Linked DNA regions of Homo sapiens: region 2 is linked to region 1. The links come from fine-mapping of genetic effects on gene expression. Tissue or cell type: whole blood. Region 1 holds a variant in brackets; the other region holds the start of a gene. All regions are shown on one strand. Distances are between the middles of the regions.

Evidence for each region. PIP is the estimated chance that this variant, and not a neighbour inherited with it, causes the effect.
Region 2: A2M-AS1 starts here. The variant in region 1 is fine-mapped to the expression of A2M-AS1 in whole blood (TOPMed, PIP above 0.99).

The regions. Positions count from the first base shown.
Region 1 is chr12:9,098,678-9,105,221 of GRCh38, forward strand. A2M (alpha-2-macroglobulin) reads right to left here. Exons shown (of 36, transcript NM_000014.6): 11 at 5,562-5,723; 12 at 2,770-2,997; 13 at 2,467-2,530; 14 at 704-846; 15 at 1-79. It also overlaps a transcript of KLRG1 not described here. Among named protein-coding and RNA genes, the nearest start is that of A2M, 14 kb to the right of the region's middle. The variant C/T (reference allele first, on the strand shown) is at 2,621.
Region 2 is chr12:9,061,742-9,067,513 of GRCh38, forward strand. It overlaps A2M-AS1 (A2M antisense RNA 1), which reads left to right and starts at 3,436. Exons shown (of 2, transcript NR_137425.1): 1 at 3,436-3,487; 2 at 4,085-5,772. It overlaps LINC00612 (long intergenic non-protein coding RNA 612), which reads right to left and starts at 3,329. Exons shown (of 3, transcript NR_034140.1): 1 at 2,527-3,329. It also overlaps a transcript of KLRG1 not described here. RefSeq lists silencers at 2,665-2,714, 2,775-2,824.

The DNA of each region.
Region 1 (6,544 bases):
CGGACTGAGGAGCCGCTGTGACTCGCAGGTGGGCGTGTGAGGCTGGGAGACTTTGTGATGGGCTGAAGCTCAAATCCACCTGTGAAATTGGAACAAAAGGTCAGAAAAGCAAATTTCCAGGTTTACCCATGCATTCACTCGCATTTGCAGAGTGTTCCTCATGTACAATGTATAACCACTCTGCTTGACTTCGTGGAGGGTTGGCATTGTGTCAATCCTGAAGCTTTTTGTTCCCTACACTTCTCTTTCATTCTCAAGAATCACTTGAGCCAGTAGAATTATTTCTAATTATTCTTATAAATTACTAGTCATGAAATGCCATTTTTATCTTTGATACACGGCAAGGTGCTCATTAATTGTGGTGGGACATGCATGGGTCTAGGTGCTCTTGCATTTTTCTTTTGGCTCCTTAGTAGTCTTAAAAACTTGCTTACATATTTCCCAACGTTTCATCATAGAAGAAGGGAATAACATACTCTGAACTGTGTAATTGGTAAGAGGCACTGCTAGGAGAAGTTTGAGAGTTTTGTATAAGGAATCAAGTGATTCTGCTTCTTAGTGTGACTCTGCCACTACCTTGCTGAATGTCTCTGGGGAATTTGTTTAACCCTTTTGGCCCTAATGTTCACATGTGTAAAACAAATGATAACAATAGTAACTTCTAGTTTTACATGTTGAAGATTTTATGATCTAAAACACACACCTTGTTGGCCAGACAATTTTCAACATCATATTTTGCAGAATCCCCAATCACGTCCCCGGTAGGTAAAACAGCATAGATGAGCAACCGAGCGACAGGAGCAATGTCTGACTTCACAGGGATTGAGATGGAAAAATGGCCCTTCACTGGGGCACAAAGAGAATGAGAGGAAGCCATCATAGGTTAATGACTATTTCCATTAGTAGATGTAACAGACATAATAAACAGTAGATGTAACAAATGGATGATTACCTCTAAGGACTCTAGCTTTAGAAAAAAACCCTATCAAAGCCCTCTCTCCTCTCATAAATCATATACTCTGTTGATTTTTCACCAGCTTTAAGCTTCAGCTCACCCACCTAATGTTCTGATGCTAGTTAAGGGTATGAAGACATCCAATTCACTACCATTTGATCTAGGCCTCATACTAGAAGAGGGAAATAGAACCTGAAGTTATGAGATGTAAGAGTAAGAGTTCAACACATTGTATTCATGCTACATGCTCTTTAACCTTCTATGAGCCAATATTTGGTTCTTTCTCCATAAGAGGAACACCATGCTCCTTCAGAAGTTATTTTTTGATGCCTATGTAGATTCTTTAGAGGTTGCATTAAGTTTCCTTCAGTCTGCTATGGTGCTTCTGTGTTGCTACAAGAACTAATGAGAGAGTAGATTACTGATACTTTTCTAGCAAGTTATCTTTTAGAGTCTACTAGACTAGGAGCAACCTTCAAAGGTTTATATTATGACATATTTGCTCATGGCAAGAGTCCGCTTCAGTCGGTAGAAGTACCCAATTTAATGCTTCATAAATCATAACTATCTTGAAAGGGAAAAAAGATATTTATAATAATATAAATGACATAAATGACTCAGCACAAGACCTGGTATATACAACATACCTTGAAATCGTACATTTTCTCCACCCCATTCTCTAACACAATTCTCATTTTGAGAAGAGGTTCAAGAATATTTATGGTTTAAAAATCTGGAATAAGCATAGATTATACACAACAATATTTTATGTATTTTATTTTTCCCCCTTTGTTCTTATTTATTTATTTATTTATTTATTTACTTTTATAGAGATGGGGTCTCACTATGTTGACCAGGCTGGTCTCAAACTCCTGACCTCAAGAGATCCTCCCATCCCGTTCTCCCAAAGTACTGGGATTACAGGCGTAAGCCATCATAGCTGGCCCACACCAATATTTTAAATAACGCAAAGAAAATAGGCTGAAAAAAAAGACAACACATATTTGATAAAGGGTGAGAAAAAAACCATTATTGTTTTCCCTCCCTCAACTTTCTTTTAATTAATATTAGATGGAAATGGTCTCTCGTTACTTGAAAGTATTCCTGATATTCCCAGCTCAGGAATGGAAAACCAAACATCATATCTTCTCACTCAGAAGTAGGAGCTAAGCTATTAGGAAGTGGCAGCTAAGCTATTAGGAAGTGGGAGCTAAGTTATGAGGATGCAAAGGCATAAGAATGATACAATGGACTTTGTGGATTCAGGGGGAAGGGTGGAAGGGGGTGAGGGATAAAAGACTGCAAATTGGGTACAATGTATACTGCTCGGGTGATGGGTGCACCAAAATCTCGGAAATCACTACCAAAGAATTTATTCATTCATGTGACCAAACACCACCTGTTCCCCCAAAAACCTATGGAAAAAAAGGGAAAGTATTCTGATACTTCCGTGGTGTAAGGCTGAATGGGTCAGAATGGGGCAGCAATGCAGAGATGATGGAAATACTCACTGTCTTCCTGCTTCACAAGCAGTCCATGAGTCCCAGTTCGGACAATGCCTCCCTTTGCCATTATCTGCAAAAAAGGAAATAAAAAGAAATTAAATGTGCCAGAGAGAACACGCTTCAGTCTCACTTCAATATACTTGTTTTATTGAGTCCCTGC[C/T]GGCAATAATTCACCTCAAGAGAAATCAAACTTTCAAAAGGAACATGGATAAGAAGTTGAAGTAATGACATCTAAAGAGCTTCATGATTACTTGCTCCACAGAGAGCTTTTGTCTACAGTGAAGTCAACGCAGTAACCTCCCTTCTCACCAGATAATAGAAGGAGAGCTTCTTCAGCCCCAGCAGGGTGCCTCCATTCAGAATATAATGTGCCTGGACTGTCTGAGTATGGCCACAGGGTAGTTCATGAGACATGGGCTCAAGGTGGACAAAGCTCTTGCTTGGGGAGAACACAAGATAAGCAGTGTGATGTGCCTCTTCGTGTTCTTCTGACACCCACTGGTAGCCGTAACAGGGACTACGATCCTTGTAATTGACCTAATGAATTAGAAAAATTATATTATTTTTAGATTATACGTCATAAAGATTAATGTTCTCACAAAACTACGTAAGTTTACTGTCCTACCTTAACTAGTAGCTAGAAATCTTTTGTTCCACAATGAAAAGTGGGAGAAGGACCCCTGATTTTGTTTCTCTGCTTCAAATGTAGGCATGCTTTGTGACTTTACACTGCAGAGCCTCCTGGGATTGAGATTTATATTTCTTAAGAGCATAAAAGGAGGCATCCTTTGCTCTGATTAGCTTGCTTGAAATTTCTTTGACTGCTTTACCTGTGCAATTAGAGACACTGGAGCTATGAAACTTCATTGAGGAGAGTAAATAATCTCTAGAAATGGAAGAACTGTGCTTTCAGAAAGCAGCTGCCTCTTTTAGGGTGGATTTTGAATGGGTATTATGAATAAATAAAATATTGTAACCTTAGGGGTCTGAGAAGACATTGGTAGAAAGCATTGGTTTAAGAGCTGAGCTGATGAATTAGCTGAAGTCTACCTCTTCTGGGCTATCTTAGGCTGATTGCTATTATTATTATTTTTTTGAGACAGGGTTTTGCTCTGGCGCCCATGCTGGAGTACAGTGGCACAATCTTGGCTCAGTGCAATCTCTGCCTCTGGGGCTCAAGTGATCCTCCCAGTCAGCCTCCTGAGTTGCTAGGACTACAGGTGCATGCCACCCCACCCAGCTAATTTTTTGTATATTTTGTAGAGACAGGGTTTCACCACGTTGCCTAGGCTCGTCTCGATCTCCTGGCCTCACGCAATCCACCCACCTCAGCCTCCCAAAGTGCTGGGATTACAGGCGTGAGCTACCGTGCCTGGCCTAGGCTGACTATTTTTAATGCTCCCTGCAATCTGGATTCTAATACCTCAGAGGCCCTATTTGGGTTATATTTCCAACTTTTCTTCCTGTAGAAGTTATTCCTTAGCTCCTTTCAGGCTTCCTCTACCTTCATCCCCAGCTCCCAATAGCACTAGTGAATCCTTGAGCAAAACATTTTGTTCATATCTTAATGTATATTTTGGTGACAACACATATATGATCACCCCAAACAGGGAACAGGTAGAAATAATAATTTCATTGTCAAGACTAGCACAGTGCTGGCACGTGGAAAGCATTCAAGACACTTTTTGAAATGAGTAAACATTCAAATTAGAGGGAGGTGCTTTTATGCCATCTATTAAAGCTAAATAAATAAAATGTATTATTTATTTCTCTATAACAAGGTAAAACTCTAAAGAGGCAGGCGTTTTCCATTACCATGATTATGTAATATATATTAAATATGTATTGTATATCCATGTATCTATAGACATGTCTACATCTCTCTTGATGAATAGAGGACTGCATGCTATACCGAATAACTTATATTGGTATGAACAGGTCATCTGGAGAAAATTAGAATAGCAAGACAAAATAAAGTAAGGTAATAATTTTTGGAGTATATATATTTAAAACTAAATGCTAATTATGTTAGAATTGGCTTTTATAGTAAAAGTATCTAACAGTTAAAGGGGGCTTACTAAGTGATTCAACATGTATGATTTCACTTAATCTTCACAACCACCCCAAGAGTCAGGTGTTAGTATTGCAATCATTTTACAGATAAGGAAATGAAGCACAGAGGTTTTAGTTAATTCCTTAAAATAGGGTTGAGCCAGTATTTTTAACCACTTTATCTGATTCAGATTCTGGAATTCACACTTTTCAAAAAAGTTATTATAAACACACACACACACACAACATAAAATTACCATCTTCATTATTCTTTAGTGTACAGTTTGGTAGTATTAAGTATATCTGTTGTGCAACAGATCTCCAGAACTTTTCATCTTGTAAAACTAAACCTGAATACCAATAAGAGGAATTCCCCATTTCTCTCTTTCCCTAGCCCTTGGCAACCACCATCCTGTTTTCTGTTTCTATGACTTTGACTACTTTAGAAACCCCATGTACGTGAATCATACAGTATTGGTCTTTTTGTGACTAGCTTATTTCACTTACCATAACGTCCTCAAGGATCATTCATGCTGTAGCATGTGACAGGATTTTCTTCCCTTCTCAGGCTGCATAATATTCTGTTGTATTTATATACCACATTTTGTTTACCTGTTCATCCCTTGATGGACATTTGGGTAGCCTCGATCTCTCAGCTATTGTGAATAGTGCGGCTATGAACACGGGTGTGCAAATAGCTCTTTGAGACCCCGTTTTCGATTCTTTTGAATATATGTCCAGAAGTAGGATTACTGGATCATTTGGTAATTCTATTTTTTAATTTTTTCAGGAACTACTATACTGTTTTTCATAGTGGCTCCGCCATTTTACGTTCCCAGCAACACTGCTAAAGTCTAACCCGCACTTTTAATCACAATATACTGCCTTCTTTTCATAAACTTTAAAAAAGTTAACCTTCAATCGGTTTCTAATTGCTAGTTTTTTTCTCTCCATAGAACTAGACACAGTTTGGAAATTTTCTCACCCTTAGGTTGCAACCTTGTTTCCAAGGCTACTTCATGTCATTGGTAATTTCTTTCCAAACTTACCCTAACAGTAAGAGAGGTACCCATAACATTGGTGGTGTTGATAGAGAACTGTACAAGGCCATGCTCATCCGTGGTAGCATTGGAGTAATAGTTTGCTTCATTTCCTCTGATGAATATGACTTTATTTGGTATAGGGACGCCTTTCCCATCTACTAGGCGCACCTGAAGATTAAAAGCTGTGGATTAGTTATATTGGTAATAACTAATAGGCACCAAACATATTCATTTATCACATTTTTTAGTGCCTCCTCTATGTTGAACATGGTTCCAGGCACTGAGGACACAGCAGTGAAAAAAAACGAAGTTTCTTCCATCACAGAGCTTACTGTCTAGTGAAAGAGATAGATGCTAAATAAATATATACATAACATACACTAATTTAGTAGTAATCAATCCTAAGAAGAAAAACAGAGCAGTGTGAAGGGATAGAGAGTGATAGGGATAATAACAAGAGTGACCTGAAAAATGTCTTCTAGATATTTTGGAAGTGCTGTGTATTATTATATATAACTCTTAGAGAGTCACAGAGCACTAGAGTAATATGATAATGAAATATTTTAATCTATTAATCTATTAACTAAATTTATTTGTGCCCCAAACACCTATTTTGGAGTGGACCATTAACTTCCTATAGATTAGTGTCTGAAGTCTCATAAGTGCACAAGTAAACAATTGCCAATACATTGTCCTGTGTGTTTCTCCAGTTGCCTTAGACATGGTCTCTGCTTCTCAACCTAGATCTTCAGCCTTTTGGAAGGTAGGCAGATTTTATGACACACTTCCCATGTGAAAAATATAAAATTGAAAAGAGGCACACAGTATTAAATAAGTTGCCAAATCTAATTTACTGCTAATATTGTATTGGCAGTTGAGTAGTCCAGTTCAGATTGTAAAGGTGGCAATTCTTTTTCAGTATAAGCTACAGTTGGTAGCAGGAAGAACAATAGGCTGACCCCCATCAGTACTCATAATTGATTTACAAA
Region 2 (5,772 bases), 37 kb before region 1:
GCTTTTAACCCCACAGGTCTTCATTGTCCACATCGGTGATGACCATTTTTTTAGTAGACAAGGCAAGAACTTAATGAAGAGAATTACTTTACGTTTCTTGAATTTACTACTGAAGAGTTATAGGTAGCTAATAGCTAATATTTTCGTAGCTAGTGTTGGGACACGGAAACCAACCCCCCAAAATATGGTGCTTTGATGGGCTGAACTGTATAGTATATCTGATATATTTATATAGTGTATAAAAAATCACCTGACACAATAGATGGATAATATATCTGATATATTTATATATCGTATAAGAAATCACCTGACACAATAGATATGTAATATATCTGATATATTTATATATTGTATAAAAAATCACCTGACACAATAGATGGATAATATATCTGATATATTTATATATTGTATAAAAAATCACCTGACACAATAGATGGATAATATATCTGATATATTTATATATTGTATAAAAAATCACCTGACACAATAGATGGATAATGTATCTGATATATTTATATATTGTATAAAAAATCACCTGACACAATAGATGGATAATATATCTGATATATTTGTATATTGTATAAAAAATCACCTGACACAATAGATGGATAATATATCTGATATATTTATATATTGTATAAAAAATCACCTGACACAATAGATGGATAATGTATCTGATATATTTATATATTGTATAAAAAATCACCTGACACAATAGATGGATAATATATCTGATATATTTATATATTGTATAAAGAATCACCTGACACAATAGATGGATAATATATCTGATATGTTTATATCAGATATATTATACATTTATATATTATACATATACATTTATATATATACATAATAAATACATTGTATTATACATATATGTATATATTATACATATACATTTATATGTATAATATAGTTGACATATTTATATATTTATATCGGATATATTGTACATTTATAATATATTTATTATATTTTATATTATAGTATATTATCATTTATAATATATTGTTATATGTTATATGATATATATTTATAGCAGACATAGTAAATATCTATTGTGTTAGGTGATTTTTTATACAATATATAAATATATCAGATATATTATACATTTAAACAGTTAAACACCTAAACAGCCCAATTTTATGTGGATCAGTACTACTAACGGCTTAGGGTAAAATGACAGCTACAGCATAACTAGAATGTTAAAGTGGCATGTCTCAGACAACGTGGATGGACATAAAGTATTTGAGAGAATATTGCATAATAGAAAAAAACATTGTAAAGACTAAAATACTAAATAAGACCTTTTTTTCCCGAGCAATAATTTGCCCAGGCTGGTCTCAAACTCTTGGCCTCAAATGATCCTCCTGCCTTGGCCTCCTAAAGCATTGGGATTATAGGCATGAACCACTGCTCCTGGCCAGAATTCTTGATTAAACAATAGGGTCTAAATAAATTTAAACCCCTTTTATTCTTTTTATTCTTACAGGGTAGACTCAAATATTCTATTTCTTTCCAACTTTATATTCTTGTCATAACAACCCAGTATTCTCTGAGGCAAATGGATGCTTATGACCAACTGGCCTGAAATGGGGGAATATAGGGTTAGTGGTGAGTCACATATAAGAAAATGCAAGAGAATAGCAGTGTATCATATTTCAAAATAAAATACAAACTATACATAAAACTGACCCCAACAAGTATCCATTTCATTTCCTGTCGTGTATCTATATGCTTTCCTGGAAAGAATAAACTTCAGTTCACAAAATCAGATGTAGAAGATACATCACTTTTAAAAATTCTACGTAATTTTAATTCCAAGATTCCCATGCCACCAGGCTGGTGGGAAATCCAGTTTAAGTTGTAATTAGGCCTTTTCTCCAGTATTACATATGAATTTGAGTGTAATACCCCAAAACTTGAGAAGGCCATTGTATCTCCAGTCCACTGGGGCAATGAATAGCTTGAGCACCTGATCATTATAATGACCCAGATGTGTATCTTTTTCTTTTACTCTGCGGTGAGTTTTTCTAAGGGAGGAATCCTATTTTGTTTAATTTTGTATTATAGCATGGGATATTGTGCCTGGCAGATAGTAGGCAATCAGTTAGTATTTCAGGAATAAACACTCTTGGTCAGTGATACAGCTAATGATTTGCAACAAGCATATCCTTAAAGTACCTTTTCAGTAACGATTTCCATATGAACAAAGAAAAAAACTAGAACCAAGAGGTAAAATTATAATCCTGTTGTCTTGTTCCCATAGCCATACTCTGATTTCTTTTATGTTCTGTGCCCTGGCTTGATACTTAATTTGACAGCTAATTATAATGTTTATTAAGCTCTGAAATATACTTTCTCCTGGCCTTTTTGTCTGAAGTTGTTTGAGGTGTCACCATGGTTGGAAGTTAAGAGCATGGAAGCTAGACTTCTTGGTCTTGAATTCTAGCTTTGTCACTAACTTAGTAACTTTGGGCAAATTACATGTCTCTGCTTCAATTTCATTTGTTAAGGTAGTACCTATTTCACAAGGCTGATGGTGGCAGCAGTGGGGCGTCCAGAGCTGCCGCTGCCATCACGCCAGCTGCAGCAGGGAGGGGCGGGCAGCGGCGGCGGAGCAGCTGCGGGAGCCGCAGTGGCTGCTGTGGGACATCTGTGCCTCGCGTCCCCTGTGCCTTGAGACCCCAAAGCAGCCGACTGCGCCGCCACCATCCTCGCGTTGCCGGGTGGGGCGACGTGCTCCCCGGCCAGGAGCCTCCACCGCTCCGGACCCTGGCCCTATGTCGCCGCTCTCGCCCGCCGCCGCCGCGGAGTGGGAGTGGGGAGGAGGGGAACAGTCCTTGGAGCCGGCCCCGGGAGTACTCCCGGAGCCTGCCGCCCTGGAAGCCGCCACGATGGACCGGGCTGAGTCGCCCGCCGGAGGGGAAGCAGTGTAGTCGGGCACGGAGGGGCAGGCAGAGAGGGGCCCCAAGGCGGAGCTGGGTCCGGGGCGGAGCGGTGTTCGCACACAAAGCGCTGGGGCTGGACCCAGGGTTCGGGGCCAAGGCGAGAAGTGGGAGCGGGGCCCGCTTTGGGGACCCGGACAGCGGTGTGGCCACCGCGCACACCTCCGACAGCGCCGCATTCCTGGGCCTTGGGAGGAGGCTCTGAGTAGGGCCGCCTGGGGCGCGTCTTCAGGGTCCTCCCGGCACTGGGGTGACCGCCGAGCTAGACGCGCCTGAGGGCTGAGCCCCAGGGCTCGTGATCTGCTCCCGGAGGCGCCCCCCAGGCAGGGCCGTGAGCCGGGCGAGGGAGAGTCCTGGGCTGCCCCTGAGCCCCGGGGCCACGGGAAGAACTTGCAGCGACGTCATCCCTGCCCCGGACACAGTCCCGGGCCCAGGGAGGACCTGGAACATTCCCTTCCTCCCCCCCCCCCCCCCCGCCCCCGCCCATCAGCCCAGCCTGCAAGGAGGCGCCACCGGACCTGCACACTCAGGAGCAGGTGAGCCAGGGACAAGCAGGAGCCCCGCCCCTTCCGAACTGGTGGAGCAGGAGCTCCCAGGGTGCAGCTGCAGCCACCTTGCCGCGGCTGTGGACATTTTCTGTGCTCTCAGAGGCCCAGCAAAGTCCCCTGCCCACTGCAGGCTCCAGGGTGCCTACTCCGGCTGCCTGGCTTCTCTCCACTGTTAGCACCCACTCTGAACTCAGAGCAAGGTCGGGCCGAGCCTGGGTACTGTCACAGCCTGGCCGAGCGTGCACACGCTCAGGACAGTGCTGATACGCCAGCCCCCTGCCGTCTCGGCCCCCTTTGGAACTTGGGCACCAACAAGCGTGGGAGGGAGGCTGAGAGGGGTCTGAAGACAGCTGGACACTGACTTGCAGGCGCTCCTTGGCATGAACAGCCTGGGAGCAGGAGGCAGACAGGTTCCTGGGTGGAAGGGGATGGGTCCCCAGTGAAGTCCCACCCTCAAGCTGGTGAGGGCTTGAAGCCTGCAGACCAGAGAGGTAACTTGTGGTGCTGCTCCCTGGGCCCACTCATGGCTGCCCATGGACCAATCAGCATGCATTTCCTCCCTCTGAGGCTCATAAAATCCCCCAGACTCAGCTAGATTGGAAGAGAGGATGGGAAGACAATGGATGACCTACCTGTGGAGAGAAACTACCCATTCCAGAACCTCCTCTCTGCTGAAAGCTGAACACTCAATGGGAAGACCTGTTTGCAGAGAGGAGCCAGCCACTCCAGGGTCTCCGTTCTGCTAGAAGCTGAACACTCGTTGGGACACCCTTGCTGTGGAAAGGACATCCTTACTGTGGAAATGAGCTACTAACTGCAGGTCTCCTTCCTCTTCATCTTCCTTATCCTTCTGTTCCATTGCTCAGTAATGCTCCTCTTCATCTGTCTCATTCTCCACTTGTCTGCTTGATGCAGGAGCTGAGGAGCTGCACAGCAAGGTTAAAAGAGCTGTAACACAAACAGGGCTGCAACATGCCCCTTGCTCCCCACAGGGAGAGAAGAGCTCTGGCCCTCGGAGAAGCCCAGACCTGGGAGCTCCTTGAGCCCGGGCTGTGACTCCCTCTTTGGGGCCCTGGTTGGCGTCACTGCATTCGCCAGTGCCACTGTTGGAAGCTGCTTGTGATGCGCCTGGTCCAGGGGGAAGCTGTTTGTTGTGTGCCTGGTCCAGCCACCTCATGGAGAGCCTGTGCTGGCACCTGGAGCTGCCCAACCTGGGCAGCAGCTTGTGTGTGTGACTGCACAGTGGCCACGCTTGCTCACACACCCCTAGCACACCCCTCTGCTCCACCCGTCTCAATCTCCCTTGGATCCGGGATCCAGGTTGGTAGCAAGTGCGAGTGGGCAGAAGCAGCCCAGTGGGCCCAGAGCAAAACTCAGGCAAAGGTGCCACTAGACTGGCCAGGAAAGCGACACCCTAAAGATCCCATAATGCTGATATGTTAATTCTATTCTATAAGCACCACACAGAAGTGATAGCTTTTATTTCTTATTTTGTCTAGCCTGGAGACAGAGCTAAGGATTCCTTGAACTGCAAAGTCTTTTCCAGTTCTTAGTTTATACAATCCATACTCACCTTCTGCCTAACTAAGCATTGTCATTTTTGTGCCAAATGAAGAGTAGGACTCCTACGATTGTCCTCAGACTCTCTTGGCTCAATCCTCCTGCTTTAACCTTTCCTACTTCAAAAACTCCTGAAGTTTTGCTTCCCCTTCTATAGAATGGAAATATATGTCGCAATACTTACTGCAAAGAAAATTATATATTTTAAAAATAGACTAAAGAGATGTTGTGAGACATCAGACATCAATCAGATGTTGTGAGAACTGATTTCTGCATCAGAATATCTCCTTGACTTTACAGCTATCCTTTAATCCTGGCTCAAAGTTCCAGAAGAAAGATGATCCAATATAATACTCCTATTTGGACTTTGAGTCATACACATTCCTTCTTCTGAGAAAACGTGCTTCTGCATGAATCCTCCCTTCATTATTTTCAGCTCATCTATTATTGAATCTGAAACCCCAGGTTAACTGACTGATCACTCTCATCAGTGGCAGATTTTGGTGTAACATAGGACACATCACTCCCAATTCAGGTCAAGTCCCAATTATCTTGCCTCTCAATATGACATGTTCAATGTTGTATTTCATTCTACTTCATTTTAATGTAAAAAGTCTTTTCTGGTGAAGTCAGTCTTTTATTTTCTCATAAAAATTCACCCTTTGGGTTTTTCATAGGGTATTCCCATAACCAAACACACTTTACACTTTCCT